2 separate regions of the Homo sapiens genome follow, and region 2 is linked to region 1. The links come from fine-mapping of genetic effects on gene expression. A gene starts in region 1. The other region holds a variant in brackets. All regions are shown on one strand. Distances are from middle to middle.

Region 1 (16,685 bases):
CATTTCTGTTTTTCTTTGAGTTGCCAAATGTTAAGGTTGGGATTATTCAACCCATATGGGGCATGATTTCCTTTTTTCTATAACATTTCTGGGCAAGCAGATTTTGACTCAGTGCTACCAATCTGGGGTGTGTGCTCCCTTTTCCTGGTGGACTGGGGAAAGGTCTATCATAATCTCATGAAAGAGCACCATGGCAAAGGAAGAAACGAGAAGAGGATCTTTCTCAGTGATTTGAGATCAGTGGTGAGCTGGTGTTAAGAGTAGTGTTTCAAGAGAAAAACAGAAAGGGAAGGGAACATTTTCATTTTCTAATATATGTTTTTCTCTGCTGGCCTTTGAGATGCCAGAATGATAAAAATCAGAGGGGTCATCTGAGAGGTGGCAAAAAATAAAAATCACCTCTAAAAGAGAAGCAGCTTAATGTGCCATCCGCAGGCACAGCTGTTTAATCATGGGTGATTATTACACTGGGATAGACTAAAAGAATTAAAAGAATGTTGTGGCTGTGATTTAAACAATGAGGACTCTGGTAAGAACGTCCTGGCCTCATTGGTGAACTAGGACTGCAACCTGAATGGAGTTATTGAATAAATTGATAGCACAGTTTTCAGACACCTGCCCCCTTCCCTCCATGCCATGATTTTCCAGTTGCTTGCTCTGTGGCCAATTTTGGGGTAGATCCAAACTTGCTTCTTCAGCACCTAGCAACAATCTCAAATGCCACAAGAAGAGTTTTAATTTAATTTAGTGCACGGCCACATTTAGTAAGTTTTTGAGAATGTTCCTAATTTATTAGCTTAAAATCTTATCACGATTTTTAAATCCATCACTTCTCTTCAAAGAATGATGAATTAAAATGTAGGTAAATTTTTCTTACTTTCCTTGAATGAAATACACTGAGAGCAGACAGTCTGATTGACACTGTTATGTATGAACATGAGGGACGTAATTCTAAAGAGTACTGGCCTTGCAATAACTCTTTAGATTTATCTTATGTGACTCCTATGCTTAATGACTCTTTGACAATTGATGATGGAGGAGCCAGTCCTGTACATCCTTTCCCTACTATGTTATTATTGATAACATAATCAACCAAAATGCTTTTTGTTTGTTTGTTTTGAGACGGAGGAGTCTCGCTCTGTCGCTCAGGCTGGAGTGTAGTGGCGCCATGTCGGCTCACTGCAATCTCTGCCTCCCAGGTTCAAGCCATTCTCCTACCTCTGCCTCCCAGGTTCAAGCCATTCTCCTACCTCAGCCTCCCGAGTAGCTGGGATTACAGGCGTGTGCCACCATGCCTGGCCGATTTTTGTATTTTTAGTAGAGATGGGTTTTGCCATATTGGCCAGGCTGGTCTCAAACTCCTGACCTCAGGTGATCCGCCCACCTCTACCTCCCAAAGTGCTGGGATTACAGGCACGAGCCACTACGCCTTGCCTTATTTAATACTTTTGAAATTACTTCCCTAAACATCTTTTCCCTAGCAGAGCGCTAACAGTGTGAACTTCACGGCAGCAGAGACTATGTTTGTTTTCACCCATGCTTGTATGTCCAGCCTAGGCAGAATGGCCAGCACATAAGAAGGGCTCTGTAATATTATTTACTGAAAGAATGAGTGAAAAAACATCATCTCTATGCTGCACATCTTCTGTCGTGCCACCACTTTTGTGTGGCTTGTCATCCCCTCTTAGCTGAATGACTGCCACAGCCTCCCTTGTGTTCTCTCCGCCAATCCATTCTCCTCTCCGCAGCCAGTCTGAGCTACTAAAATGTGCATCTGCATATGTCACCCCCTTCTGTTCAGTCTTACTTGCTTCCTGTTTCTCTGAGGTTAGTGACAAAGTCTCAGCGTGGCCAGCCCCACCTTACAATTTCACTCCTTGCATCCCACACTCCAGCCTCTGAACTAGTCACATTTCCCCACACCTGGTAGGCTTAGGCTCCCTCTGATCTTTGGGTCTCTGTAGATGTTACACCTTCACCTAGGAATCTCTTTTCCCCAGCTTAGCTGTCACCTCCTCTCTGAAGCCTTCCCTGATGACACAAGGCTGGGTTGGGTGTCCCTCCCATATGACCCTGTTGCTTCCACCGTGATGTCACTGTTTACTTTTCTTCCTCCTCTCTAGATTCGAAGCTTCTTGAGCCTGGGACTGTATCTTGATCATTGCAGAATCCTTGCCACCTAATGCATTGCCTGGCCCACCATCGGCACTTGGAGAAATGATTGTTGAGTGGGCAAGAAGAGGGCAATATGGCATAGTTGAACTAGCATGGGATCTGGAGCTGGAAAGATCTTCCCAGTGACTGGCAGTCACCTTGGGCCATCCCCAAACTCCCCAAGCCCCAGTTTCTTTCTCAGGGAAATGGGGTGGAGGACATCACTTCGCAACTCACCAGGTTGTTCTGAAAAATACAGTGAGATGACATAAGGAAAGCAGCACAGGGCCTGCTCCATAATGAGCTCTGGTACATTGTTCTTCCTTTCCTCAATCCCTCCTTCCCTTCCTTACTGGCCAGGTGGGTAAAACCATGGATCAGAATACTAGAATTCCAGTGTTACAGTCAAAGATTAAGTGGTTCTAAATCATCTAGAACCAGAAATAACATTTGACCCAGCAATACTATTACTGGGTATATACCCAAAGGGGATGCTTTTTAAAAATACACACTCCTGGACCTTACTCTGTGGTTCTGGGACAGGGTCCAGGAGTCTGTATGCTTTGTTTCAAGTTTCTAATGTGCAGCCACAATTGGGAGCTTTTGACCTAGTCCAACTTCTGACCCAAAGCAGGAATCCTGGTTATGTAGCCTTTGCTGGAGCACATCAGGGATGGGCAGCTCGCTGCATTTTGAAGCTGTTTCTTGCTGGACAGCTGCTCTAATAGAGACCTCTCCCTTATAGACTGTGCCCCATTCTGCTTCTCTGATAACACCCAGCCTTTAGATCGGGTTCTGCCTTCTAGAGACACATGAATTAACCTACACCATCTTCCACATAGTCATTTTTCAGATACTTGATGTTACTAGTACTATATCCCTTCAAAGGTTTTTCTTTTCCAGCCTAAACATTCCTGTTCTTATAAACTAGAATTTGCTAACTGGAGCCTGCGGGCTACATCCGGTCCACAGATGTGTTTTGTTTGGCCTGTGGTGTTTGAAAAATATTGAATAAGTTGCCAACATTTAAAAATCAGGGCATTTCACTGAAACGTCTGGAGCTCTGGCATCTCTTGAAAACTCAAAAGATCTGGAGCCACAATTTTATCTTTGGACAGGACATAAATTCTCCAGATTGTTGCAGCCTTCACCACTCTATGCTCTTGTCTAGCCCCCTACCTGAATCATTATGTCACATGTTTCCAGACCCTTCGTTATTCTCATTTTCTTTTCCTAGCTGTGATGCAAAGTGTCAGTGGTCCCATCTTTAAAGAAAATTTTTCTTTTTATGTTTACAAAAATGATAGTTAACAATAATAATAAACATAATATTATAGAAAATTTGGAAATTACAAAAAAAGAAAGTGTATCTGCCAATAACCCTGTTTAGCATTTTTATAAATTTTCTTCTAGTCCTTGTTTTTCTGTGCATATTTATATGCTATGAAGCTGAGATCAAACTGTATATAGTTTCATAGACTGCTTTTTTTCCACATTTTCCTCATCTCATTAAACTCCCTCAAAAGGCCAATTTTAATAAGTAAAATATTCTGTTTTATGTATCATAATTTTTTTTATTGTGGCAAAATACACCTAACATGATATTTACCATTTTAACCATTTTAAAAGGTACATTCACAGTGTTGTGCAGCCATTATTACTAATTCCAGAACATTTTCACCACCCCAAATGAAACTCTGTATCCATGAAGCAGTCACTTCCCGTTCCCTCCCGATCCCTGGTAACTGCTAATCAGCTTTCTGTTTCTATGTGTGGCTATTTCATATAAATGGAATCATACAGCCTGTGGCCTTTTGTGTCTGGCTTCTTGCACTTAGCATAATGTTTCCAAGGTTCATCCATGTTGTAGCATCTATCATTATACGCTGTTCCTTTTCATGGCTGAGTAATATTTTACTCTACGGCTGTACCACATTTGGTTTATCCATTCATCAGTTGATGCCGGTTGGTGGACACTTGGGTTGTTTCTACCTTTTGACTGTTGTGAATAGTACTGCTGTGGACATTTAGGTACACGTTTTTGCTTCAACACCTATTTTCAGTTCTTTGGGATATACACATAGCAGTGGAATTTCTGAATTATATGGTAATTCCATGTTTAACTTATTGAGGAACTACCAAGCTAAATAGCTAAATAAAATTCCACAGCAGCTGCACTATTATACATTCCAATCAGCAATGTTCCAATTTCTTCACATTCTTCCCAACACTGTTTTCTGGGTTTCGTTTGTTTGTTTTGTTTTAGCCATCTAGTGTGTGTGAAATGGTATCTCACACACACCAGAAATGGTGAAGTAGTTCTTAGAGATTTATATTCTCTAAAGACTGATGTTAAGCATCTTTTCATGTGCTTTTTGGCCATTTGTATATCTTTTTTGGTTTATATATTATAACTTGCTCAATAATTTCCCTAGCTTTGACATTGGTTCCCTTTTAATTTTTCCTGTCATAAATAGTGTTGTTATGAACATCTTTATACAAAAATTGTCTGTATATCTCATTATTTCTATAGGACAGCCTCCCTGAAGAGGGACTGTGGGGTCAAAGGAGTAGGATTTCGAAGGTATTGAGATGAAGAATCAGATTCAGTGCTGCATGTATGTTGAAGCTGTATGAGTCACCTGGAGAGCCTTTGCAAGCGCTTGTGCTAGGATTTGCATCCCTAACACTACCTCAGGCTTATTGGGGTGGGACCTAGTTTCCCAGGGGATTTTGATATGCAATCCAGCCAAAAAACATCAGCCAAATTTCTTCTGCATCCATTTAGGTCTTAAAAAAAAAAAAGGCCAGGCGTGGTGGCTCACACCTGTAATCCCAGCACTTTAGGAGGCTAAGGCGGGTGGATCACTTGAGCCCAGGAGTTCAAGACCAGCCTGTCCAACATGACGAGACCCCCTCTCTACAAAAATTTTTTAGAAAAATTAGCTGGGTGTGGTGGTGCACACCTGTAGTCCCAGCTATTTGGGAGGCTGATGGGGGAGGCTCACCTGACCCCAGGGAGGTCGAGCTTGCAGTGAACTGTGGTTATGCCACTGCACTCCAGCCTGGGGGACAGAGCAAGACCCTATCTTAAAACAAACAAAAAACAAAAAAGAGGCCTGTAAGATCTGCACGAAATTGTCCACTACTCTGACCAGTTCTGAGCAGCTTGGTCCTGCTACTTCCCCTGCTGTGTGCATCAAGCTTGGTCGTCTAGCTCTTCTGGCAGAGTGAGATTATAGTCACCTAGACCACCCCTTATTGGGTTTTTTTTTTTTCCATCTGAAATCTCATCTTTTCCCTTATTGTTCTTGGAGGAGTCGATCATTTTGGACCTATCTTTTCTGGTAAGAAAACAGAGGTTTCTGCCTGCTCTGTGACTTGCCCTCCGTTATGTAACACCTACTGATCAAGGGTAGACCAGGACTCCTGGCGCATCAGTTAATTTCTTTCCACTCCCTTCAATGGCCTTGTTTCATCATTTTTGATTGGTCACAATTCAAGAAGCAAAAAGTTGCTGCACAGTGCCAAATGTACCAAGTACTCTAAAAGTGAGAGCAAGCCTCTGCGTGCCTGGGCAGGCCACTGCTGTCACAGGCCACCTGCCTTTCACCAAGTCCACTTCTATCCCTGGGTGGAGGAGGGGCAGCTAAAAGTTCTCCTTTGTCAGGACAGTCAACCATGATCTCAAAAGAACTATGATTGTATTGTGCATTTTAAACCCTTGGAATGTTACATGGTGATGAGGTAACAGTGGCTATGAATGTTCTTACAAGTGGGAGCTGAGCATTGGGTACACAAGGACACAAAGATGGGAATAGTAAACACTGTGAATCCCAAAAGGGGGCAGGATGGGAGGAGGGCAAGAGATTAAAAACTACCTATGGGGCACTATGTTCACTACTTGGGCGATGGGATCATTAGAAGCCCAAACCTTAGCATCACACAGTATACCTGTGTAACAAACCTGCACATGTATCCCCTGCATCTGAAATAAAAACACAAAACACAAAAACAAAATATAAAAACAACAGCTCTGAGTTTTGACATAAGGTGTGCAGTGCAGATTCCCAAATCTAGATTTAACATGCGACGACACTAACAGGGTCTCCACATCATTCAGAGCCAACGTCAGGGGGATTGTTGGTGAGGAGAGGGGAGTGTGGATACCAGGAAAGGAACCAACCTCAGTTATGTCAGTTGGGCCAGAGGAGGCCAAAGGATCCTATCTCCCTGATGCCTTGTCTCAGACCTCAGTTGCCTTTGTGGTTGCCTAGTGCCACGGAGGCAACGGGCATTCAAAATTCTGCTAAATAAAAACACACAGCAAATTAGGTTTTATTTAAACTCAGTAACTTACTCTCCTTGTTAAAAACTCAGTAACTCACTCCCTTATTTTCTGTAATATGACTGTCAAGATTATGTCTTCACACGTGCCCTTCACATGAACATTCTGGGAGTGCATCTTGTTTTCCTAATGTTTAAAAAACATGCTGCAAGCTAATTTTAAACTGGGATGGGTAATGAAAAAGAGAGAATCATAGACTTCTCTGTGGCACCACCTCTCAGTTAAAAATTACCCATGCCTTTTTAATCTCTAGTCTTTGAGACTAAAAGCACATTAATCTACTTATTCCTAATTCATTTTCAGAATTTTCCCATAGAGCTACTTATATTCAGTCTCAAGGCATACTATATATCAGGACATACACTAAACTTTCAAATCATATTTAACAATTGATAAAATTTAAAACTTGTTATTAAATATTTTCATTTAAATGGATTTGGAGAAGTTGCAAACATACTATTGCAACATAGAGTGAAAGACCAACACTGTAGTGACTGTCGATGTAAACATTTTAACAAAGTTTTTGATTATCAAAAGAACTGAGGTCTTTTTGGTTGCTAAATTCCAGTCACTTCATTATTGCTTTCTTTCATGTTATTCATATTATTTTCCAGATGGGCAGGAGCAGCTTAAATGACTACTGTTGTTTGAAGGGCACAGCAAGCGTTGTATGTGTTTTGGCAGGGGGTAGCATAGGGCATGAGAAGGACAGGGAAGGAAGAGATTTGGAGGTAATTTCAAGCTCGTGCTGTCTGGAAGTAGTGCATTTTAAATTAGTGTTAGTGTGATGTTCTGCAGCAGCCAAGCTTGGGAATTTTTTATATCTTTAAGCAGAGTCTGGCGAGTGGTGGTGGTGGGAGGAGTATGAGAAGAGGGTGTTTAGAAATGCTGTAACTCAGGACATTCTCCTGAGCATATACATGTCTAAAGTCAGTGCTGTGCCCTGCCTCATTTGTCATTCCAAAATACATTTTTTTCCTTCCTCCATCTAAACCATGTTCAGGCCTTGTTCAAGTCCTGCCTCCTCCAGAGACACCACTCTGGCTTCTTAGCCTTTCATGCTTCCCCTTTTCTGAATCAAGAAGGCTCCTAGAATATTATGGCTAAAGGCACCTCCAGATTACCTCTCCAATCTGTCATTGTGCAGAAGGACAACTTGGCATCCATTTGCATGAGGTCTGTAGAACATGGTTCAGTACTGTCTTACACAGTTTAAGTGTTTTGTGTGGGTTAGGCTTATTTCCCCAACTATATTTGGCAGTCTTTTAGGAAAGGACTATGTCACACATTTCTTTTGTATATTTCATAAAAATAGCATATTGTAGGTACTCAGAAAATGCTTTTGGCTCTGGTAGCACTTCTCTGTGCAATGTGGATAAGCACTGATAGAGGCTTGTTTGTTGTGGTACAAACTAGAAACAACCCAAATGCCCATTCGAAGGGGAATAATTGAATATGTTATGGCATATCCATACAATGGAATAGTATTATATATAGTTATTAAGAGAAATGATTTAATCCTGTAGCTATCGACCTGGGGGATGTCCTCAGTACATCATTATTTTTGCAAATTGTAAGAGAGGGAAATAAGCCAGGCATGGTGGTATGCATCTGTAATCCAGACTACTTGGATTACAGATACTTGGGTGGGAGGATCGCTTGAACCCAAGAATTTGAGACCACCCTGGACAATATAGCAAGACCCCCATCTCAAAAAAAGTGTGTGTGTGGGAAATAGTAAAATCCCATTTTCTGATAATAAATAACGATAATCTCATATATCTGTATCTGTACCTACCAACAAGAACACGGGCTGTTCACATTTGTGGTAGGAAAGGTTATTAAGTTTTTTCTTTATCTGTTTTTGTATTGTTGCAACAGGAAACCTACTAAGATTAAAATCCAGCAAACATAAGACAAAGATAAAATGCACAGGGGTTTTGATGCATTAGGTGTTTCCCATAGTACTTCCTATTTTTCAAACTTCGTGTGATTAAAAAAGTAAGTTTTATCCCTGACTAAATTTCAGTGTGGAAATAAAGAAATAAAGATAGCATGTACTTGGCTTAGGTATACTTGTTTTGTTCTTTCAGCTCGTTACGTAAAGATACATTTTTTTTTCTTTCTCATGACATGAAGATAAGCTTTCTTCTTACCAAAACCTAAACTGTGAAGGCAGCACCCAAGCCAAAAGCCTCGAGGCTCTGGTTTCTGTGGTGGGATGGGGAGAGAAGTAGGTTGCACAGATGTAGGATGCCAGCTGACTTCAGAACTTCCGGTCTCAGAGCTAACCAGGCTCGGCAAGCCACAAGAGAGAAGGAGCTTGCATAGGTGGAAGAGCAAAGAAAGCCAGTGCTGCAGAACTTCCGGTGCTCCTCCGCCGATGTCGGGCTGGCGCTGCTCCCGAGCCCTGTGTCCTGTGGAAGAAGTTGGTGAGAATCGTTTTGAATGTAGGCAGCCACTCCTGAGGAGGCTAGCCCTTGCTACATTAAAGGTGGAGCTAGATTTACATTTTATTTTATTTTATTTTATTTTTTATTTTTCGAGATGGAGTCTTGCTGTCGCCCAGGCTGGAGTGCAGTAGCACGATTTCAGCTCACTGCAACCTCCACCTCCCGGGCTCAAGCGATTCACCTGCTTCAGCCTCCCGAGTAGCTGGGATTACAGGGGCACGCCACCATGCCTGGCTAATTTTTTGTATTTTTAGTAGAGACGGGGTTTCACCATGTTGGCCAGGCTGGTCTCAAACTCCTGGCCTCAGGTGATCCACCTGCCTCGGCCTCCCAAAGTGCTGGGATTACAGACGTGAGCCACCATGCCCGGTCAAATTTACCTTTTAGATTCACATATTACCACCAGAAGAATGCTTCCTCTGACAACTGAGCGGTACTCCATCCCCAGAGCCCTTTGTGCAGACTATTATTGCAGTTTCCTAACTTGTTATGACACTCCAGCCTTTTCCTCCAGGTCATCATACAATCCATTTTTAGAGTGATTGTTCTAAAGCACAAATCTTAGGTCACTCCCCTGCTCAAAAACCACCCACTGCTCCCCCAGTTCCACAGAAGAGAGCTCAAATTTCTTAGCTTGGTATTCAAGACCTTCCATGATAGGATCCCTGTCTACTACTCAGCTTACCTCACTTCTCCCCTCCTCCAGCCAAATGAAACTGTTCCCTGTGTATGTTCAGGCTCCCTAGCTTCTGCTCACAGCCTTCTGAATATGAAGAAGGGAAAGTCCCTTACCATTCCATCCGTCTCTACCTGTTTAAATCCTCCCCAGTCTTCAATATTCATTTCAGAGGCTGCGTCTTTCAGGAGGCCAGGTACAATTTCTCTCCCTTCTCCATGCACTTCTCCTGCGGCCTGTGCCTTACATTCTAGCTGTGCGTATTTGTATACTTCCTGTTACACCTTGGTAACCTCATCAAGGGAGAGACTGACTCTGACATTCCAGTGTCTGAATTTCTTTCTTTCTTTTTCTTTTTCTGTGTTTCTTTCTTTCTTTTTTTTTTTTTTTTTTTTTGAGACAGGATTTCACTCTGTCACCCAGGCTGGAGTGCAATGGTGTGAGCATGGCTCACTGCAGCCTCAATTTCCTGGGCTCAGTTGGTTCTCCCACCTCAGCCTCCCGAGTCGCTGGGACTACAGGTGTGCGCCACCGTGCCCAGCTAATTTTTGCATTTTTAGTGGAGATGTGGTTTCACCATGTGTCTAGGCTGGTCTGGAACTCCTGGATTCAAGTGATCCGCCTGCCTTGGTCTCCCAAAGTGTTGGGATTACAAGCATGAGCTACTGCGCCCGGCCTCCAGTGTCTGAATTTCTTATGCTCAGTAAATGTCTTATGCTTAATACATCTTTGTTGAATTGAATGTGGTTATCTGAAATGTACCAAATTAAGTTTTAGAAAACATATCTTTTATCCCCTGTTGGAGGGGGTAGTGTGTAAAGAAATAAAGGAGCTACGCACTGGGTTGGTGTCTGTGAAAGGAAATATGATATGACTTCTTTTTTTTTGCAGAATTTCCCATTTTCCCATTTTATATTATCGAATGTTTTCCAGTCTCTTAGGCTCCTCTCTCTTCCTGCTGCCTTATCCTTTCCCTTTGACATCTGTCACTGGATGTCCTTACCATGATTTTGGATGGGGAAATGAGAAGATGCTTCCTGAAAGACTACACTGAGGGGATTCTCTAATAGATTTTCATTCCATGTGACTTTTTCTGGCTGGGGAGGGAGTAGGGGACCTTCCAGTCATCTCAGGCAGAAACTAATTCAGGTCCTGATCAACCCACTGCCTTAAATTTTAGAATGGTTGCTATAACAATTTTAGAATGGTTGCTATAACAAGATGCCTTAGGAAAAAAAAAATTGACAATGGCCAGAACAGGAAGGTGACTCCGTTTTACACATGTCCCTAGTCCCTCACCTGTGGAGAGGTGGTGAGAGTTTAACTGCTTGCTGTCTTTCCAAGAATGCACGTGGAATTCAAAGAAAAGAACAGTAGAAGGGAAGGAGAGGGTTTAAAGGAAAATTGTCATGGGCTTTGGAAAGACCTGATTGTGTAAAAATTGCTTGCTGGTGTTTGGAAAGAACCCAGGTGCTAACAGATTTTAGACAAACCCAATCTGGAGTTGCCTAAATCATGAATGATTTAATGTGACTGAGTTAATCCATATATCTTGTATACAGTAGTTCCAGCCTCCTCAAATGTAGCAGGAGATTGCCACCTTTCTGAGAGTACCTTTCATTTCTACATGCTGATTTTGTTGTTGTTTTTAAAGGACACTTGAATTGCTTTATTTAGCTTCCAATTTGTGAGATTCTCAAAAATTAAAATTACTCATGACCACAAGAAGATACTTCTGTAGTTATGGATCATTTTCTGCTATTTTTTATAAGGAATACTTTTTTATTGTTGTCTTTTTTATAAGTGATGCACATACCAGGTAGTAATAAAAAGTCATGTTTTCCAGTGCACCCTAAAACTGAACTGCTGTCTCTATTTGAACAGACAAATAAATTATACTGAATATACCTACAACCCTGAAAATCATCTTCTGGCCATTTTTCTTTTTTCCCCACAAAGATCACTAAAGTGGTTTATATTGATTAACATTATTAAATCCACCTCTCATGTTTGCAACTACATGAATTCAATATGCAGTAAGATACAGTTATACAAAGAATGTAACCCAAGCCAAGATGAGAAATAAAACCTCTATACCAATTTTTCAAAACAGGAAACTGTTGCAGAAGTATATATAGTTGTTCTTTTTGTTTCACTAAAATTACATGGATTTAAATGTTCTGTATGAACTAACCTCCTGGATCCATTGTCCTTTTTGCCCAAATTAGCTTTCTTTAAAAGTTAACTCCCCAACACAATTTAATTATCTTAGCTAAAGTTTAGGTTTGATCTCAAGCCATTTGAAACTAGACAGAGTGAAAAAATCTGTGGGTAGTTGGCAGCAGATCCTGATAGAAATATGGCACTTGGCAAAGGCTGTCTGCCTTGTTTTGATTTGCCTTTCTCTTTATGGATGTGGCCTATTTTTGAAATGTTATGATTTAAATTCAGCGATCAAGTGACAAGTCTGACAAAACAGAGCTTACATCCGCAGAGGTTCTGTGGGGGAAAAAATGGAAATGTTCCAGAACTAAAGGAAGTAACCTCAGTTTCACCTGGAAACATTAGTGTTTCGGAGGCAAGGGATTTGGGCTATATATAAAGAGTGAAGGAAAGTGGCCAAGATGCTGGGCCAAAATTGCATCCAGGAATAGAGCAGACATTAAAGAACCAAAAACTATATCTGTTGTTTTCACCGTATCCCTGTAAGTAGCACCTGGGGAGACTGTGATTAAAAAAAAGATGGGAAAGTTCTTTCCTGTGATGGCTTGGATTGTAGCAACAGCCTTCTAACTGGGCCTCTAACTCCAATCTCTCCTTCTCCAGTACTCAGTGTACACTTTGGCCAGATTAAATTCTTGGGAAAACTCTATTCCTTTCTCCTGCTCATGACCCCCATTCCTGTTTGTCCATAAGATTAGGTAAAGGCTGGGTACAGTGCTCATGACTGTAATCCCAGCTCTTTGGGAGGCTGAGGCAGAAGAATTGCTTGAGGCCAGGGGTTCAAGAGCAGCCTGGGCAACATAGCGAGACCCTGTCTCCACAAAAAAATATTAAAAATTCACCAGGTTTAACAGTGGCCTGTGCCCATAGTCTGAATTACTTGGGAGGCTGAGGTGGGAGCATCGCTTGAGCCCAAGAGTTTGAGGTGGTAATGAGCTATATGATTGCACCAAAAAGATTAGGTTAAAGCTTCTTATGCTGATGTGATGCTCCCCCCACCCAGTTATTCATTTTTCTAACTTCATCTTCTATTATTTTCCAACATGAAAGATTTACTCTCCAGTCCCCAGTCTCATCCTTCAAAATTCTGCTTAGTGCCTACCTTCTTCATCTTTATAACTCAGACCCATGCGGAGCCCCCTCAACTTTGAAAGACTGTAGCCCTTTGTTTTCTGTCTTTTGGTAAGATTATTTTATTGTTAGCCATTTTGTTGCAAGGAATTATATCTATATCTATCTATCTATCTATGTATATGCATTTGGCCACTATTTGTGTAAATATATATGCATACGTATAGAGAGAATGTATCTCATATATGGCAGCTTTTTCCTTAGTGTATAATATTTCTCCATAGGAGGTATGTTGAAACTGAAGCTGAATTCTGATCATGAATTATATATATATTATATTACATGTGAGAGAAAGTACCAAGCTGCGAGAATCAGGAAAACTAAGTTCTAGTCTCAACTTTGTCACTAACAGGCAAATCATTAGACTTCGTCACAGCTCCAAACAGGGAATTCATTTCCTTTGTGTCTATCAGGAGATCACAAAAGAAAGGTGTAACTACATGTATTTATGACAACCTTAAGTAGTAAAATTACAATCTCAGGTCCCATTAAGCTGGCATGAATATATGCAGTTACCTTTTGATTAGTCAAGAAGAAATGATGTATTAGTTCAGTGAGTTATTGGCTTTATAGATTAGACTTCTGAGTACAGAGGGACTGTGTGACAATTTCGAGGTTGCTGAGTGTAACAAAGGCCAAGTCATGCTCAGTTTGATTTTTGCTCCCAGGCCTGTAAAAGCTTCTCTCCCAATATGATGGGCCCCTCTGCTTTAGAGGTGGTGTTGAGTGGGTTATAATCCTAACTCAATTTATTTACTCTGTAGTATTTTAGGAAATCTTTCAAGATCTCTTATTTTTCCTTTTTTAGGATGCACATAAAGGTACTTGTCTATGAAGGTTTTTGAGCTTGTTAAGGTAAACAATCATCCCTGTTTTTATTGCGTGCACACCAGGCATCTGGCCCCGTGCTGGGGGTGTTGCATATGTTGTGTTATTTTTTATTATTTATTTATGTATTTATTTATTTTTTGAGATGGAGTCCCTCTCTGTTGCCCAGGCTGGAGTGCAGTGGCGCGATCTCGGCTCACTGCAAGCTCTGCCTCCCGGGTTCACGCCATTCTCCTGCCTCAGCCTCCTGAGCAGCTGGGACTACGGGCGACCGCCACCAGGCCCGGCTAAGTTTTTTTTGTATTTTTAGTAGAGACGGGGTTTCACCGTGTTAGCCAGGATGGTCTCGATCTCCTGACCTCGTGATCCACCCTCCTCGGCCTCCCAAAGTGCTGGGATTACAGGTGTGAGCCACCGCGCCTGGCCGTTACGTTATTTTTTAAACACATCTATAAAATGGCTATTGTAACCCCATCTTAGAGATGAGAAAACTGAAACGGAAATGGATTGGATTTAATAATTGGTCAGTCTGATACCATAGCATTAATCTTTCTACTATGGAAAAAAAGGAGGTCAATAAAAATTAACATTTTAATCAATAAAAATTAACATTGCCTCCAGATTTCAATTTAACTGATACTGTTATTCCATCACTTCCTTTGGCCCAACTTTTTGTCTGTAACTGGTAACAAAGTTGAATTTTGTTTTACTTTGGGTTGGCCATCGGGTGAGGGTGATAACTAGTGGTATTAAAGAGCAGAGAAACACCCAAAGAGAATCTCAGGAAAGGAAGGAGCAACAAAGGATTAAATGTTCCAAAAATTGGGTAATTGGGGTAGTTGGTCCTTGAGTAACTATTTCATAGTCAGTACCCATGTGTTATTTTCATTGGGAAAAGATTAGGTAATAAATTAATTTTCTCCATTTTCTAATTAGATGTAATTCTTTTTTCATAATGTTAAATATAGAGTTAACAAATATGCTACTTGGAGGGCATGACTATAACATGGAATTTTATGTTTTTTCTGTTTTTAATAGTAATGGAAAATATTATATATATTTACTCTGCAGCATAGCCTGTAGGAGACATTTTCAGACATGCAGTCCTGCCTCACTCCCTGATTTTTTAAAAAATGTATTTATAAGGACTCAGTATATTTTTGTATTGTCCTTATGGTACTTAAGAGGAACAGATTTTGATTTTATGATAATCATTATCTTTCTGGGATGGAGTGAACTTCTCAAGTAAAGGGTGATCTATATTCAGGAAGAACTCAATGAAATCCTTGCAGGAGATCATACAGCAGAACTCACATGAATTCAGTTAGCAGGTTTTGTTCATTAAATCTAGTGACTTGAACAAATTTTTATTATCCTTTCACAAAAGTGCAAGCACTGGCTCCTACAAAAAACAGTTGTTACCTAACGAAGTGTTTCAGCTTGTTCATATAAGTTGATGGCTTCATATGGCTAGATTATTGCTGTATCAGCTATCAGCTACTGATAACACACTCCCATCTTACTTTAATGACATATGTACTCAGAATGCTCAAGGAGGGACAGATGTTTAGGAATATCAAATTTTCCTTCTTGGCTATTGATTGATTCCCAACACCCATTTCTGATTGGAATGCAAAATGTTTTTCTTTTAGACTTGGAGTCTTTATTTTCCCGATCTAATCAGAAAAACACAAGCAACACACCAGGATCTAGAATGAAATGCTGGAGCATCCCTGGATGCTGCTTGGGCTTATTACCATTGACTGTAGTTACCAATGCTCAATGACAGCCTCTGTCACTCTGCCTATCTTCCAAAGCCAATTCATTAGTACAGAGCATGCAACTCTGGCAAAGGGAAAGTGAAATATACTATACAGTGGTTTTAGCAAAAATCAAAATGGTGGTTTCATTAGGGGATTTTGCGGGATGTGGGAGGGCATTGATGACTTCATAGCCGGATGGAGTGGATACTCTAAACTAGCTTGGCTCTCTTTGTAGAACCCATGATGGGCTTCATTCTTAAATGGAGGGTGTGTCTGATGACATCAGTAGCATATTTTTTTCATGGAATTGACATAATAATTGAATTGGATTTCACAGATGATGAAAATGATACCTTAGCACGTAGGTTTTAGATAGTTTTATTCTTATTTCTAAAACCTGGATCCTCAGGGATCAATAGGAATTTTTTGTGTTTGGTGTTTTTTTGTTTGTTTGTTTTAGTATGTGCATGGTGTGCATGTTTACTTATGACTAAGAACTCTTTCAGAAGCTTGAGTTCTTTTATGTTTTTAATGAAGTGGATTTTTCAATTACCTTACTTCCTTAATTACACATCCTGAACCTTTGCTTTTACCTCCCAGGTAACAAATTACCATCTTGCTCCCCCTAGTGGAATTTTGACTCTACTTCAAAGTTTGAGAATAACTATCCCTAGTACATATTTGATTTAGCATTTTATTTTTGGAAGTCTGGTATTTTCCCAGTTTGTTTTCAGGGTGAGAATAAAAACAGAATATTTTATTGGATGTGCCGATAGGGGATGTGGGTAGAGAAAGTGGCTTTCGGCTGATTAGATTTCAGTTCCAAGGGTTAGCAAGTTCAGCTACAAAATTTATAAGATCAAGGGGTCTTTCTGTTCCCCATTTCTATCTTAGAGGGGTCAAGTGTCATCAGCTTGGCAGACATTCACCTCTAGAAGGCAGCCGTCAACACTCCTGGAAAGGTAGTAGGGGGCTAGTTGTTGGTGATTTTGAAGGCAAGGACAGGTCCCATCTGAACAACAAATCCCACTTGTGCTTTTGGTAAATTTGGCCCAGGAAGTGTCCTTCTGTCTTCTGAATCTACCAGAGGCACTGCACCAATATCTGCA
Region 2 (16,685 bases), 120 kb before region 1:
TACCTATCGAACACCTATTGGATCGCATGTTTTTCTTTTGATTCTTTGACCATTGTGTATTATAGTATGAAAAATCATTAGAACGAATAATATCTATTTGTATTTTTCTTCTGGTTTTCTAATTTCCTTTCTCTTCCATGCTTTGGCAATTTGACATCTATTTAACCACATAAAGTTATCAAATTAAAATGAACTTCTTGACAATAACTATAGAGGATGTTTCTGACTGTGTCTGAGCTGAAACTGGTTAAGTGGTGTCAATTCACAGTACACCACAGGAAAGTCTGCAAGATCGTTCCTACATTCAGAGATGAGAGAGAGGGAAGTGCGAGGACAGTATACTGCTTGGTCTCCATCGCTTCAGACCCATGCAGTAGGTATGAATTCTCTAGAGAGACTATGGTATCCACATTTCTGCATGGACCAGCGCATAGCATTGGCCCTATGTGGCCTGAAGGGTTAGCAATGTCACTCAGCATATCAAAGATTTTTACAGGTTTGGCAGCACTGATGACTATTATGAAGAGAATATCTTTTCTCTGAGCTTCAGCAGAACAGTGGCAAGACAACGGGATGGCAAGGGGTTGCAGGGGCTCAGCAGACTCAGTAGGTTCCCAGCAAATCCCTGAGGGAGAGTAGCAGTTCCTAGTGTTGATTTATTCCTCAACACTTGTGAGACACCCTTATGACTTTCTAGCATCACTTAGGGTCTGGAGTGGAGGTAGGGAGCTCATAGCCAGGAACATATTTGGGTTTAATTGTTAATGTAACCTTAGGCTCTTGGGGCTTGAGGAATTAGGGCTCCATATCCCTACCTGCAGCATTCTAAGAGTTTTTTCACTTAAAGTTTTTGCATGTCAGTAAGATCTATTGTAGACCTTGCAGTACTCCTAAAGACTTACCAGAGACTATTTGGTGGATTTTATATTTGCCAGCTTATTTTTCACCATGGGCCATGCACTGGCAGTTACACAGCAGAGAAAGAGTAAATGTGAAACATGCAAGCACATTTCGGGACTCTTTTGCTTTGTTCTTAATTTCCTTGCAAATGCTACATCCAACCACCAAAGTGCCAGACAGTAAATCTTAATTCTTTCCTGTTTCTACAGAAATTGAGGGTGCTTTCCTATGGGTTCTATCATTGCTGGTTGACAGCTACATGTTCCACAGACTGGATGGAAAAACCCAGCTGTATCTTTGTGTCTCTGAATGTCATTAACTAATTTTCAAGTATTCAATGAAACCACAGATAGACTTGGCCAAGTATTTTTCCCCCTGAGTTTTGGAAAATATGCACATCTTAAAAAATATATTGCATATGTTCCTTATTTACTTACCACCAAATGTTCCAAATCTTGCATTATAGGAGTTAGAGACTGTCCAAAGAGCTCATTGAACCATTTTTGAAAATGTTCTTTTACAAAAACAGGAAGTCACAATATACCAAATGTCAAGTAACTTTGAATTTCAGAGGAGTTGGATTAGGTTCAAAACTTTTGAAATCATAAAGTTGAGCTGGTTCTAAATCAGAGTGTTGACTAGTCCCCTACTTTCTAATTATTTTTCCTCTTCTATGCTCATGTGTGTGTATGTGTATGTATATGGTACACACTTCTCATACACTCTAAAGTGCAATGATGAGAGGAAGAAATTTCCATGTTTTGATTACTTTAAATTTGGGGAGGAAGAAAAATCATCTTGTGGTTACAGACTCAGAAGTTCAGACTTGGTATTTCAGAATCAGAGGATATTTAATCCTCTATAAGCAGTGTGATTTCAGTCTTGTTGTCTGTCATTGGTTAAAGCCACTGAAACTGGGGACATTTACACTTAATAATTTACTTTAGAGACTTATTTTGGCTGAGCACAGTGGCTCACGTCTGTAATCCCAACACTTTGGGAGGCTGAAGCAGGTGGATCACCTAACGTCAGGAGTTCGAGACCAGCCTGATCAATATGGTGAAACCCTGTCTCTACTAAAAATACAAAAATTAGCCGGGCGTGGTGACGTGCACCTGTAGTCTCAGCTGCTTGGGAGGCTGAGACAAGAGAATTGCTTGAACCCAGGAGGCAGAGGTTGCAGTGAGCTGAGATCGCACCATTGCACTCCAGCCTGGGCAACAGAGAGAGATTCGGTCTCAAAAAAAAAAATGTATTTCACAGAGTACCTATTATGTTATTGAAAAAGGTGCTTTGTAAAGAAAACAAAAAGTGTGTATGGTACACATTTTAGCTGTTTGCATGGGGTAATGTGTAAACAATAGAAATTGATTTCTTACAGTTCTGGAAGTTGGGGAGTCCAAGGGCAAGATGCAGCCATTTGTTGTTTGGTAAGGGCCTTCTTGCTGCATTCTCCCATGGCAGATGGGGCGATACCATGTCCTCACATGGCAGAAGGCTGAAGGGCAAGAAAAGACCTAAACTAGCTCCTTCCAGCTCTTTTACAAGGCACCAATCCATTCATGAGGGTACAGCCCACACAACTTAATCACTTCCTAAAATGCCCCACCTCTTAATACCACTACAATGGGAATTAAGTTTCAACATGAAGTTTGAAGGAGACACATTCAAACAATGGCAGTGTATGTTATAGATTGAGTCTATGATTTTTTTTTTTTTTTTTTTGGCTGGGGGTCAGGAGAGAGACTTGGAAATATTCCAAGACCTGAAAACAGCAAAAAACTGACATAATGCTATGTTCTACATTTCCTTAATGGACAGAACTGTATAAGATGATTTAGAATGAGCAGCTGACTTTTGGAGAATGAAGAATGCACTAGCTTCTTCACAATGTCCTAAACATTGGAAGAGGTAACTTTTGTTTAGCTAATAAAAATTTTAACTGAAGATGTATTATGTGATCAGGTATGGTGTATGTTTGGGATAAAAAGGTGAATTTAAAATGAGCCTGGCCCTCGAAGAGTCTACACTAGAGTGGGAAACAGACAACTCATTGTTGTTTAAAGTGGAAAGTCCAATAGAAGTGCTTATATCAGGTATAGACATTGTACAAAGGATTAACTGTGTCTGGGGTGGTGAGGGAGAGATGGTGAGGAATTTACAGCACCTAGCACTGTGGATGGCACATAGTAGAGACTCAATAAATGTTAGTTCCCTTCTCTCCTTCCTTTATTTATTTATTTATTTTTTTGAGACGGAGTCTCGCTCTGTCGCCCAGGCTGGAGTGCAGTGGCATGATCTCGGCTCACTGCAAACTCCATCTCCCGGGTTCACGCCATTCTCCTGCCTCAGCCTCCTGAGTAGCTGGGACTACAGGCAGCTGCCACCACGCCCGGCTATTTTTTTGTATTTTTAGTAGAGACGGGGTTTCACCGTGTTATCCAGGATGGTCTCGATCTCCTGACCTCGTGATCCGCCCAACTCAGCTTCCCAAAGTGCTGGGATTACAGGCGTGAGCCACTGCGCCCGGCCCCTCTCCTTCCTTTAGATATAATGTGTTGACCGTTATATACAAAGATTATGATGCCACTGTGTCCTAACAGCAAGGAATTATGAATTTAGCATTCCTTTCTGGCCAGGTGGGGTGGCTCATGCCTGTAATCCCAGCACTTTGGGATGCCAAGGCAGGTGGATCACTTGAGGTCAAGAGTTCAAGACCAGCCTGGCCAACATGGTGAAACCCCATCTCTACAAAAAACTACAAAAATTAGTCTTGATGGCCAGGCTTGATGCGGGCTCCTGTAGTGTAGTCTCAGCTACTTGGGAGGCTGAGTCAGGAGAATTGCTTGAATATGGGAGGTGGAGGTTGCAGTGAGCTGAGATTGCACCACTGCACTCCAGCCTGGGTGACAGAGTGAGACCCTGTCTCAACAAAACAAAACAAAACAAAAGGAATTATTTTCTTGTGGACAGTTAGCACTAATTCCTCTATATTTAGAAATTTTTGATTCTTCTGGGGACCAGTGACCAATATTTACAAAATTGTTCAACAGTTTAATGGGTAAGCTAGGAACAGAAAGCAGACCCACAAATTAATAATCAACTATAAACTTGACCCTGGATATAAGTGTACCAGCCACATTTGTGAGAGTTCCTGAGCCAGGTTTCTGTTTTTGTTTCATTTCAGCAGCATAGAAGGTCACCAAACTTCTAAAAGCAACACTTATTAAACTTTTCCTAGGCCCTCAAAGAGCATAAGTGAATAAAGACTTATTCCTAGAGCTTGGGAGTGTGAAGGTTTGGTGAGGGGTGGATTGGAGGGAGATAGTGTGGAGAGGTCCATTGCAAACACAAAATGCGTGGGGTCTCAGGTTGATTTAAAAGATGTATGCAAATGTTACACTCCATGCCATACTATATCTGTTTGCTTATGTAAATATGAAAATACTGCTTCAAGTTACCTACCAAGTTAAGTGACTTAATTCCCCGAATCATTAAATCCAACTGATGCCCAAGGAAGAAGGGCTGTGTTTATTCTTTGACTATCTGAGCCCCTCGTTCACCATTTTCAGCAACTTGGTCTTTTTTACAAAAATTAATTAATTAAATAAATGAACAAATATCAGAAACTTGATCTTAATAACATATATATCTTAATATGTGTGACAAAATTGATATATATTATGTATATGACATATAAATCAATATACAGCACTGGTTGTGTGACCAATTAATAAGCGGAAGTTGTAGCTTGATTACTACATTCCTCATTTCCCACCTTTTGAAACATTCTGGCTTCTCATCCTAGTTCAGAAATAAGATGCAGAATTTGCACTCACTTCAGCAGCACAGGCATTAGTTCTTATACATGATAGGGTGGAAATGTGTCTCTCTTGCTTCTCTCTGCAGAAAATCATCTCATTCCTTGTCACTTTCTCATTATCATAATGCCATACCAATTGTTCAGTCTCCTTCTCTCTCATTTACGTATTTCTTTCCATTTTTCAAAGCATTTTCATATACATTTTATTATATGATTCTCCACGGTATTGAGGACAGGCATCCTTAGCCTCATTTGACTAGTAGTAAACTAAGGTTTGATGAGATTAAATTATTTACTCAAAGTTACATTCATTCAAAAGTATTTGCTCTGTATCTACTATGTGCCAGATACTATACAATGAACTAGAAACATCAAGGTGGATTAAACACAGTCCATGCCCTAAAAGAGGGAGACAGAAAAGTAATCCGGCAATTATAGGATGAAGGGATAAATACAATAATAGGGGTTAAGCAGAGGGCACTAAACATAAACCTTAGGGATACTCCTAATCCAAACTTGGGAGGTGAAGTGAGTAAGGGAAAATTCATGGGGTTAGTGATATCTAAACTGAGATCTGAAGTACAAGATTAACCAGAAGAAAATGATATCGAGGTGGGTAAAAGTATAAACAGGAAACAGCAATATGCAAAGGCTCAGAGAGAGAAGAAATATGCATCGGGGAGCTGCTTTCAGCACAGTGTATAAAGTGTGACACGGAGGCAAGGTTGCCCTGTTTAGGCACACAGATTGTGCACTGCACTACTCCAGCAGTTATCATTCACAGACTAGGCTGGGAATGGCATCCCCCAGAGTTGAGCAATGTGGCTTCTCTGCAAGAAGAATGATGGGTGGGGAATGTGAGGACTCTGAACATCATGCATGCTGAGGTGTTTGTAAACAGGCTGAAGGCAATGGAAAGCCATTGGAGGGGTTGTGGCTTGATTAGGCTTGTCTTTCAGAAGATTGTTCTGCCTGTGGGGTGGAGAATAGATCAGAAGAAACCAATGCTTATCAGCCTTCCAATCAGTAGATAAACATGAGACTGGCCTGGAGTGAGGTCCAGGAAGATCAGAGTTAGGGACAGATTCAAGAGATTTAAAGAACGTGGATTGACAAGACTCGGTAACTGGCAGGATGTGAGAGATGAGAGGGAAACGGAGATACCAAGTGTGAGCCCCAGCATTTGTTCTTAGATCAACACTGGGTCCAGGGTGGTGTCATTTACCGAGGAGGGGGGAACACTGGAGGAGGAAGATTATTAATTTTTGTTTTGGACATGCTGAGTATGAGGTGATTTTGAGACATCCGAGAGAGAAGCAGGCAGCTTGGTGGGACTGGAGGTCGGGAGAAACAATGAGGGTCTAAGACAGAGTGTTGTCAGCATGGACCTGTGTGGAACTGATCAGAGTCATTGTGGTTTCAGGACAGTGGGCTCAGGGGCACCCTGTGGAGTGGCGGAGGAGGTGAGGAAGTGGAGATCAGAAAAAAAGAGACATTTATTTTGAGAAGTTTGGCTGTGAAGGAGAAGAAAGAGGGGCATTTAAATTTTGTGAATTTGGGCCTGGTGCGGTGGGTCATGCCTATAATCCAAGCACTTTGGGAGGCCGAGGTGGGCAGATCACTTGAGGACAGAAATTTGAGACCAGCCTGGCCAACATGGTGAAACCCTGTCTCTACCAAAAATACAAAAATTAGCTGGGCATGGTGGTGCACACCTATAAACCCAGCTACTTGGGAAGCTGAGGCAGGAGAATCACTTGAACCCAGAAGGCGGAGGTTGCAGTGAGCCAAGATTGTACCACTGCACTCCAGCCTGGGCGACAAGAGTGAGACTTCGTCTCAAAAATAAAATAAAATAAAAAAATGTGAATTTGGGCTATCAATTTTCTGCAGGAAGGTTGAGAATGGTTGCTGAGACTCTACAGTGTCCTGGTGAAGTTTAAGGACCATAATTGCATGCTAAAATGCCCAGTCAGGGTTTTTCTCTCTTTTAAAGGAGCTTGGTGCTTCCATCTACATTTCTTTGCAGCTTCTCTTCTTTCCTCCCTCCTTTATCCCTTTGTATTCTATGGTGAATCTTACTTTCTCACCTTCCACTGTTTTATTTTTTCCAGGACAGCTGTCTGAAGAAGTTAAAAATAAATGGAATAACATTTTTAAAACCACAGTAAAATGCAGAAGTTTTAATACAGAACAAACACAATATTCATTTCAGCAATGCCTCAGAGGAGGCACTGTAATAACTTACTTCTTTTTTTTTTTTTTTCTTTTTTGAGGCAGGGTCTGGTTCTGTTGCCCAGGCTGGAGTGCAATGGCATGATCATAGTTCACTGCAGCCTCCACCTATTGGGCTCAAACCATCCTCCCACCTCAGCCTCCCAAGTAGCTGGGACTGCACCAAGCCCTGCTAAGTTTTGTATTTTTGGTAAAGATGGAGTCTCACCATGTTGCCCAGGCTGGTCTCAAGTTCCTGAGCTCAAGTGATCCTCCCACCTTAGCCTCCCAAAGTGCTGGGATTACAAATGTGAGCCACTGTGCCTGGCTAACTTACTCCTTCTACTTGTTCTATTTCTCAATTGTTTTTTCTGTTGTTGGTTTTTATACTTTCTGTAGGAGGTGAGATTACAAGTAGGCATTCACAGAAAAACTTAGTATATATTGAATAGAATTGCCAGCTAATATTGCCTCCAATTGCATGCTTTTAAAATCAAGCAGTTTGTCATTATTTATCGAATTCATGCAAAGAAGTGTAAGGCATGTCTAGTACCCATTAGAAGTTTATAATGAGAAAAACAACACATATAAAAAACAAAGCATGTGAAATTATGGAAGGCTAACACCCATAAAACAAAGAGAATAGATGATCAATAGCAAATAAAACAATGAAATATTTAATCGAATGATACTGTTTATAAGTTTGTTAGCAGGTCAAGGAAAATAAGGATCAAGAGCCAAGGAAGGCATTCCCTGGGATAAAGATAATAAATTTCAACAAATCAACACTAAAAGTAACTTTATAATATTGATTTAAAAAACCGTATTTCTTCAATTCTAAGGTGTCATCTTTTCACATTTTAATATCATAGATATAATAGCTAACATTCATCTTGCACTTACTTTGTACCAGGTTCTGTTACATGCGCTTTACATGTGCTGACTCACAGAGTATGGTGTATTTCATCTTGCATTTACTTTGTACCAGGTTCCGTTATGTGTGCTTTACATGTGCTGGCTCATAGAATATGGGATATTTCATGGAGTGAAAAATTTCATCTTCTGCTCTCTGAAAAGTTGTTTTTAAACCAATTTTACAAACTTAAACTCCATGACTGTTTAGAATCCAGGAACCATTGTAGGTGCAGAAATAAACAGTGCTTACAGATATACGTTAATAAAAATTACATTGAGGAAATGTTCTAATTTCCTTAGCCTAGATTGATAGGCCCTTGGTTTTGTTTTGTGAAGGTCATTTGATACCCCTAAGACATCTGTGGATCTTCTGTAACTTAGCCATTCAGTCAAGGGGCACAATA[T/GT]TTCAAAATAGAAAAGTCTCCGTGTGAAGAGAGTGCAGAGCCTCATCAGGATTTAACCTCATGCAGCAATCATCATTATCTGCCTCTACTTGTGGTTTGCACCCAGGTCAGGGAGATGGCTCTGATTTATTTACAAACAGGATGAACTATCTAAGCCACTAGTGTGAAGCCAAAATATATAATTATATTGGGTTGGGTTCTCCAGGCAACAGTCTCTGAGATGGAGAATTGTATGCAGGTTATTTACTGGGGAATGTTTTCAGGCACAACCCTGGTGGGGATGAGGAGAGCAGGACTGGGTAGAAGGAGAAGTTGATCTGTGATGCATTTGCAGCACAGGCCCCAGCAGATCCCAGAGGGAGTGTTGGAGCTAAGATGTGCTTTCGGAGATGTCCTTAGTTGAGGCAAAAGGGGCTGGGCCTTTGTACTCTCAAATTCACTGGATATGAATAGTTTCAAGGGAGGGACTGTAATGAGGTGAGGTGGTTGCTTCTGACTGAGGGTAATTCCTGAAGGAAGAATCAGCTTCAAGCTATCAGCAGGCAACACTCTCTGCAGTTGGGGGCATAAAGCCTTTGGTCCTGAATGTGGGAACTGGGTGGCACACTACAGCATCCACGACAGTGAAATACTGTGTATTCATAAGTTTATATGTTGATATGGTTTGGGTGTGTCCCCACCAAAATCTCATCTTAAATTGTAGCTCTTATAATTTCCTCTTATCGTGGGAGGGACCTGGTGGGAGGTAATTCAATCATGGGGGTGGGTCTTTCCCATGCTGTTCTCATGATAGTGGATAATATGTCTCATGAGAGCTGATGGTTTTATAAAGGGGAGTTGCCCTACACAAGCTCTCTTCCCTGCCACCATGTAAAACATGACTTTGCTCCTCTTTTGTCTTCTGCCATGATTGTGAGGACTCCCCAGCCATGTGGAACTGTGAGTCAATTAAATCTCTTTTCTTTATAAACTACCCAGTCACGGGCAGTCCTTTATAGCAGCATGAGAATGGACTAATACATATGTTTTATATAAACATATAAAATACAAACACAGATATACAGATATACACACACATTTACGTGCACATTTATATTTATAAAATTTAAAAAAGCATACATCAAGTAAATAAAACAACCATAGCGAAATGTGATATGGTATATTGGGTAGATTTAGTAAAGTCATAGGCTATGGTCACTACAGTACACAGTTCTCGGCCTTGCTCTTTAGGGAATGTTTTTGAAATTTGAGAGAACATATTTGGTTGTCACAAAGAATGGAATGCCCAAGCATCTATTGATTGGAAATTAAAGATGCTAGCTGTCCTGGAAAGTGGTCTTTCAAATGTCCCACTGGATATTCATGTAGGTAAAAATCTGTCTGCAATTATCTTAGCCTGGAACTTAACCCGTTTTACATATAAACACAATGTTTTAGTTTAGTTTAGATTTTTTTCATTCTAGGAATGTAACTGTGTTGTGGTATCAGTCAGGATCTAGTCAGGAAAACAATCTACATTATTATTATTTTTTGAGATGGAGTCTTGCTCTGTTACCCAGGCTGGAGTGCAATGTCATGATCTCTGCTCACCGCAACCTCCACCTCCCAGGTTCAAACGATTCTCCTGCCTCAGCCTCCCAAGTAGCTGGGATTACAGGTGCCCACCACCACACGGAGCTAATTTTTGTATTTTTAGTAGAGATGGGGTTTCACCATGTTGACCAGGCTGGTCTTGAACTCTTGACCTCAAGTGATCCGCCAGCCTCAGCCTCCCAAAGTGCTGGGATTACAAGTGTGAGCACTGCACCTGGCTCAACCTACATTATTTTAACAGAAATAACCCTTTCCCGTTTGCCCCGAGAATATGCGCCAGCAGCGCTTGTGGATGCAATGTTTACCCTGAGATAACTTTGCCATGAAATATCTCACTTTTATTATTTTTGCATCGCTCTGACATATTGACCTTGAAAACAAAAGACGTCATTCTATTTATAGCATTCTGTTTCTAGTAGTGGCATTTCTGTTTACAAAATATAGTAATTCTCGATTGCTGAAAATGTCAAATTCTAGAAAACGTAGCATTCCTACACGTGATGTTAACAGCGTTCTTGAACAGTTGTTGACTGAAGAGTCACTTGATGAATCTGATTTTTCTGAAATAGATGATTTTGATGTTAGTTCTGTTTAGAAATAACTCCAAGAACAGTTTTTAGATTTTATTTTCACATTGAAAATCAGATTTGCTTCAACCTCAAAGGGCGTGTTTATGTAAAATCAAATGAGTGCAGGCAGTGAGCTATACTTTTTTTTTTTTGTTTGTTTGTTTTGTTGTTGTTGTTGAGATGGAGTTTTGCCCTTGTTGCCCAGGCCAGAGTGCAATGGTGCGATCTCGGCTCACCACAACCTCTGCCTCCTGGATTCAAACGATTCTCCCGCCTCAGCTTCCCTAGTAACTGGGATTACAGGTGCATACCACCACGCCCAGCTAATTTTTTTTTTTTTTTTTTTTTTTTGTATTTTTAGTAGACATGGGGTTTCACCATGTTAGCCAGGCTGGTCTTGAACTCCTGACCCCAAGTGGTCCACCCGCCTCGGCCTCCTAAAATGCTGGGATTACAAGAATGAGCCACCATGCCCAGTCAGCTATACTTTTGTTTCTAAACAAGAAAAGGGTTAATATGAGGAATTGCTTAAATAGTCCTGTTTAATATGGGGAATTGTTTAAATAGGTGTTAGAGGACTGAAAAAACAAAAAGGGAACACAGAGATAGTAACTTTAAGAAGCAGCTACCACCAGTAGGGCTGGGAACAATGGGAAAAGGTTAGTTATTAGAACGAAAAGCTTGGAAGAGAGGCCCTTTTCTTCTCTTCATATCTTCACTCCTGAAGGGTCTGAATCCATTTTTTAATCCTTTTAAAAAATTATAGTAGCTTCCATCAACTTTTATTATAGGATATGGAAGTGCTAAGGGGTACCACAGAAAATCCAGAACATAGTCCTTCCTGTCCCAATCGTCCTCCCTGTCCCCATCGTCCTCCCTGTTCCCACTGTGTTGTAGCAAACCAATTTCCTCTTGATAATGGGAATCAGTAACCCCACCCAGAAAGGTAACCCCTGCTTTTCCTGTTGTTTCCATAGCATGTGGAACCGAAAGTGGACACATCCCAGTCTTAGCTTCTAATTCAATGAAACCATAATTGTGATCCCTGGTGGGAACCCTCCCTTGGGAAGCAACACCCCCAAACCAGCAGAGCTCAAAGCAAAACAGGCACTGGAAGCAAAAACTGTATGAGTGGATTATTGGGTGTAATGATGAAAAGAACCACTTCTACTACAACCACCACTCCCTTCTCCCTCCCAGCCCCACCCTTGATTCTTGGACCTTGTATTTTGGGGGAAGCAGTACTATGTACTGACTCCTGACTCAAAGCATTTTCTGTGTCCTCCAAGAGGTAACTTCACTATGTTAGTGTGGTGTTTCCCAGCTGGTGCTGGAACTCAGTCTTCAGTAGAACTCCATCATCCTTCCAGGTGAGCTGCTTCTGGCTGATGAGGTATTGATAAGACTGGTAAATTCCATTTACATGAGTCCTTTGCTGCATTTCTTTTGCCATGAGATGAGTTCCTCAGAAAGAAGTAATATTGTGTAGACTATATAACAGTGAGTAAGATACAACATAAGTCATGGATGGTAGTTCTGTCAGAAACACTCTCTGGGCCGGGCATGGTGGCTTATGCCTGTAATTCCCGCACTTTGGGAGGCGGAGCAGGCAGATTACCTAAGGTGAGGAGTTCTGAGACCAGCCTGGTCAACATGGTGAAACCCCATCTCTACTAAAAATGTAAAAATTAGCCAGGTGTGGTGGCGCATGCCTGTAGTTCCAGCTACTTTGGAGGCTGAGGCAGGAGAATCACTTGAACCCCGGAGGTGGAGGTTGCAATGAGCCGAGATCATGCTACTGCACTCCAGCCTGGGCAACAGAGCCAGACTCCATCTCCAAAAAGAAAAGAAACACTCGCTGGGCACAAATCCATATCAGCTGGGCATGGAGGCTTACACCTATAATCCTAGCACTTTGGGAGGCTGAGATGGGTGGATCACTTGAGGCCAGGGGTTGAGACCAGCCTAGTCAACATGATGAAACCCTGTCTCTACTAAAAGTACAAAAATTAGCTGGGCGTAGTGGCACACTCCTGTGATCCCAGCTATGCAGGATGCTGAGGTGCGAGAATCGCTTGAATCTGGGAGGCAGTGATTGCAGTGAGCTGAGATCACGCCACTGCACTCCAGCCTGGGCAACAGAGCAAGACCCTACCTGAAAAAAAAAAAAAAAACAAGAAAGGAAAAGAAAACAAATTCATATCCACAATATGTGTCTACTCTAGTGAAGACAAGTAACTGTTCCCTCCATGAAGGAAGGGTTCCAAAATAATCAATTTGCTACCACATGGCTGACTAGTCTCCCTTGGAAATGGTGCCTCTCAATGTGTGATTTCTGATGTTGTCAGATATCAGCCTTACTGCAGAGAAGCCTAAGATTTGAAGCCCAAACATAGTCTTTATTCCTGACTCCATGGCTACTTTGAGCAAGCACTGCAATAGGTGGAGAAAGAGGCCCACTCCACCGAATGTGTCATTCACCTAATTACTAAAAGCCTTCTCAGAGTAGATGCTCTGTGGTGAGCATTCACATGGCACACAAATTCCTCACACTTTGTGCCTATTCTGAAAGGTGCACCCACAAACCTCTTTCCCGGACCACCTCATCTTTCCAAGTTGCTGACCATTCAGCAAAACCATCAATAATTGCCTGTGAATGAGTGTAGATCTATACCTTTGACCGTCTCTCTCAATCCAGACAAAGTAGACCCTAGGTGCGCTGCTGGAAATTTCTTGCACTGAGAAAATTTCCCTTCAGTACTGTCATCGGGGGCATTCCTTATTGAGACTGTGATGCTGGAATAGACCACTTCCAGCTTGTGCCAGTATATTTAGGAGAACTGTCTGTAAATCAGTTAACTGGTCTTAAGAAATTCCCCATGAAGTTGAAGATAAGGAGGCACCAGGAGTAAGTATCAAAGGAATCTGAGCTACCTGCTAAGGCAACTTGTGCTTTCTGGACCTGCTTAAGCTCAGTCTCTTACATACCATTTCCATTTGATGAGGAATTCCTCTTGTGTATGTCTGGTCTTATGGATTGGTAGATTAGATTACACTCAGTTCATAATGGGCAGCTGAGCTTGCAGTCACTTGATTGTCTCATGGCCAGTCATTCAAATTCACTTAGCAAGCTAGGGACCATTCCTCAAATAGAAAATTGTTATCTGCAGAAGAGGGCATGACTTGCTCTACAACTAAGGAATTCTGCATTGTAGATCTAATCAGGGCTCACCAGAGGCTCTATATAGCATCCTTATTTGCCACAGACACTTTAAGTATCATTGGATTCCTCTGGGTCATCAAGTCCTGCTACAGATATTTCTTCTCCCCTTATTCCTAATAAAAAATTCCAGCCTTATGGGTTGCTCTATAAATGGGTCACAGCATCACACTCAGATGTGATACATATTGCCTCTAAAATCCAAGGATACCCAGAAAGTATTGTGTCTCTTTTCTTAGTGGTAGATGGTACAAGGTGAAGTAATTTGTCTTTTACGTTGGGGAGAATATCCTGGTGTTTTCTAGACCACTGGACCTCCAGAAACTTCACTAAGGTGATGAATTTTCTTGGGGTTTATACCCAATCTCTGGCTCACATGTGTGTTGTTAAGGCAGCTAAAATATTTGTTACTTCCTGTTTATCAGGGCCAGTCAGCTCGATGTCTTTAACATAGTGATCAAGACCTGTGCAGATGAGATTATGCCAGAGAGTGGGAGTGTTTACATCCCCTAGAGAAGACTGTAAAGGTGTACTGTTGATCTTGCCATATAAAAGAAAACAACTTTTGGTGAAAATTGAAATAGATAAAAAGCATTTGCCATATCAATAGTGCACACCAGGTGCCTAGGGCTGAGTTGCTTTGTTGCGGTAAAGACAGCATATATAGAATAGCAGCTGCAACTGACATTACCATTTGATTAAGTTTACAACTTAATAACAAATCATAGTTATTCTCTAAGATCTTTTGCATAGGCCCAACAGGTGAGTTAAATGGAGATGTGACAGTATTATCATTCCTGTATCTTCTACGTCTTTTCTGGTGGTACCAATTTCTACATATTTCCAGGGATTGAGCATTGTTGTTGGTTTTCTATTCTGGTATCAAGAGGAAATTCCAGAGGCTTCCATTTGGCCTGTCTTACCATAATAAACTTCACTCTGTGGGTCAGAGAAATGATGTTAGGATTCTGTTAGTTACTGAGTATGTCTATTCTAACTAACAGTTGAGGAGATAACTATAGTTTGGGTCTGCAGAGCTACTGGATCCACACTGATTTATACTTAGTTAAAAATTTCATTTATCACCTACCATAGATCCCCATTTTGATTGGTGGATCCAGTGGTGTTTGCAATCCTCAGGAATTAGCATTAATTCAGAAGCAGTGTCAGTGATCCCTCAAATGTCTGGGTATTTCCTTTTTCCCAGTACTCGCTCAGCCTAGAAAAATACATCAGGTTCCTTTGGATAAGGCTTGGATGAGGATTTGTAGTATATATTTATGACAATGCTGCAAGACCCTCCTGAAGGGGACCAGCTTCCCTTTTAATCAAGGAGCTCTGTGTCTGTGAACTCATTTAGGTACGGAAACTGAATGAAAGATAATTTCATTTTGATGGCTCAAGGGAGCTTTCAGGTGGCAGATGTAGAGTTTTGTCTGTTATAAAGATCAATGGCTATTTCCAAAGTCTGCCCGTCTATTTCATTCCTAGGACAACCTAGGGCACTGCCAGATATACCTGTAGGTTAAGACCTTTAAGTACTACTTTGTCTCTGCTGTCCATTACAGTAAATGTGTCCACCTTGTCTCTGCCAGCTAAGTGCTGCCACTTGGCCATTGCTGTCGCAGGATCCCACTAATATAAAAATCAAGGAGCCATCTCAACGAAAGCATCTCCCACCATCATATCCAGCTACTAGAGAGTTTTTCTGACGTTCTCTCTCGAATGTATTTTTCTTTCCTTTTCTTTTTTTTTCTTTTTGACAGAGTCTTGCTTTGTTGCCCAGGCTGGAGTGCAATGGCGCGTCATTGGCTCAGTGCAACCTCTGCCTCCTGGGTTCAAGCGACTCTCGTGACTCAGCCTCCCAAGTAGCTGGAACTACAGGTGCATGCCACCACGCCTGGCTAATTTTTTGTATTTTTAGTAGAGACGGGGTTTCACCATGTTAGCCAGGCTGGTCTGGAACTCCTGACCTCAGGTGATCCACCTGCTTCAGCCTCCCAAAGTGCTGGGATTATAGGCATAAGCCATGGTGCCTGGCCTGTATTTTTCAATGCTTCAGTATAAAGATCATCATCTGGCTCTCCAGGAATATGTAGGGGTTGGCTGTACAGATTATACATGATAAAATTATTCCAACATTCCCATCTCCACAAATCTTTGGATTTCTTTCTCTACATTATACCAGGGGCATTCTGGCTTCTCAAGCTCACCGAATATAGTCAACTGCTGAGTCTGAGTCTCATTTAATGAAGTAAACAAAGTGTTTGAATCACTGTCAAAGTACTGGCTAACACATTAAAAGCAGACCTTCTGATAAGTGTAGTCTTATCAATAAATTTTGCCAAATCTTCTGCTCCCTATTTTATTTGGAACTTGGCCACGAGTTGTTCAACCTTTCACAAAGTCAGGTCACCTATGACAACACCAATCTTGATATTTGAATTCCTAACACTATATGTTCACATCTGTCTGCATTTGTAATTCTCTCATTCACAAAGCCTCTCCATATAGGTGGAAGCATCTTACTGCTTTGTTTTGTCAGAAGACAAAGAGAGTTGTGTTTTACCACTTACCTACTGAAATACATATTCATTATAAATTACTCTCCTTTAATTTTTCCTTTATTGTACAATTAGGACAATATATTGTTGCTGGTTTTTTTTTTTTTGAAATTTGTATTGGTAGGTAATATTATCCACAAATTACCTTTCAGGATAGTAAGGGGAGTGTTAAAGATACTAGTTACAAAAAGAGGATGATGGTCTGATTGGGTGGAGAACTGCTGCCTCCTCACTTTGGCCCCAGGAACTTAGGTGCAGGCATGTCCGCGATGAATCAAATTGGATCTTGAGTGAATCTTCCAAATTAAGTCATTTGTTATCACTCTTCTGAAAGATGGCTCTATTTAAGTAGAGAATGCAGGGTCCTATTCAGTTTACTTACAAAGCCATGCAGGGTGTTCAGTAAATAGACATACCAATAACAGCAGTGAAGAACTGACTCATAGATGCAACATAAACAATCTGTTGTATGTCTGAGAAAGG

What was found. PIP is the estimated chance that this variant, and not a neighbour inherited with it, causes the effect.
Region 2: its variant is fine-mapped to the expression of ANKRD44-AS1 in whole blood (INTERVAL, PIP above 0.99).

The regions. Positions count from the first base shown.
Region 1 is chr2:197,191,152-197,207,836 of GRCh38, reverse strand. ANKRD44-AS1 (ANKRD44 antisense RNA 1) reads right to left here and starts at 9,846. Exons shown (of 2, transcript NR_135584.1): 1 at 9,748-9,846; 2 at 8,564-8,919. The region is part of intron 1 of ANKRD44 (ankyrin repeat domain 44); the gene reads left to right. RefSeq lists enhancers at 1,909-2,098, 8,731-8,800.
Region 2 is chr2:197,312,361-197,329,045 of GRCh38, reverse strand. ANKRD44-DT (ANKRD44 divergent transcript) reads right to left here. Exons shown (of 4, transcript XR_923750.3): 1 at 16,348-16,685; 2 at 14,729-14,857; 3 at 14,562-14,577; 4 at 10,166-10,409. Among named protein-coding and RNA genes, the nearest start is that of ANKRD44-DT, 9.6 kb to the right of the region's middle. The variant T/GT (reference allele first, on the strand shown) is at 8,257.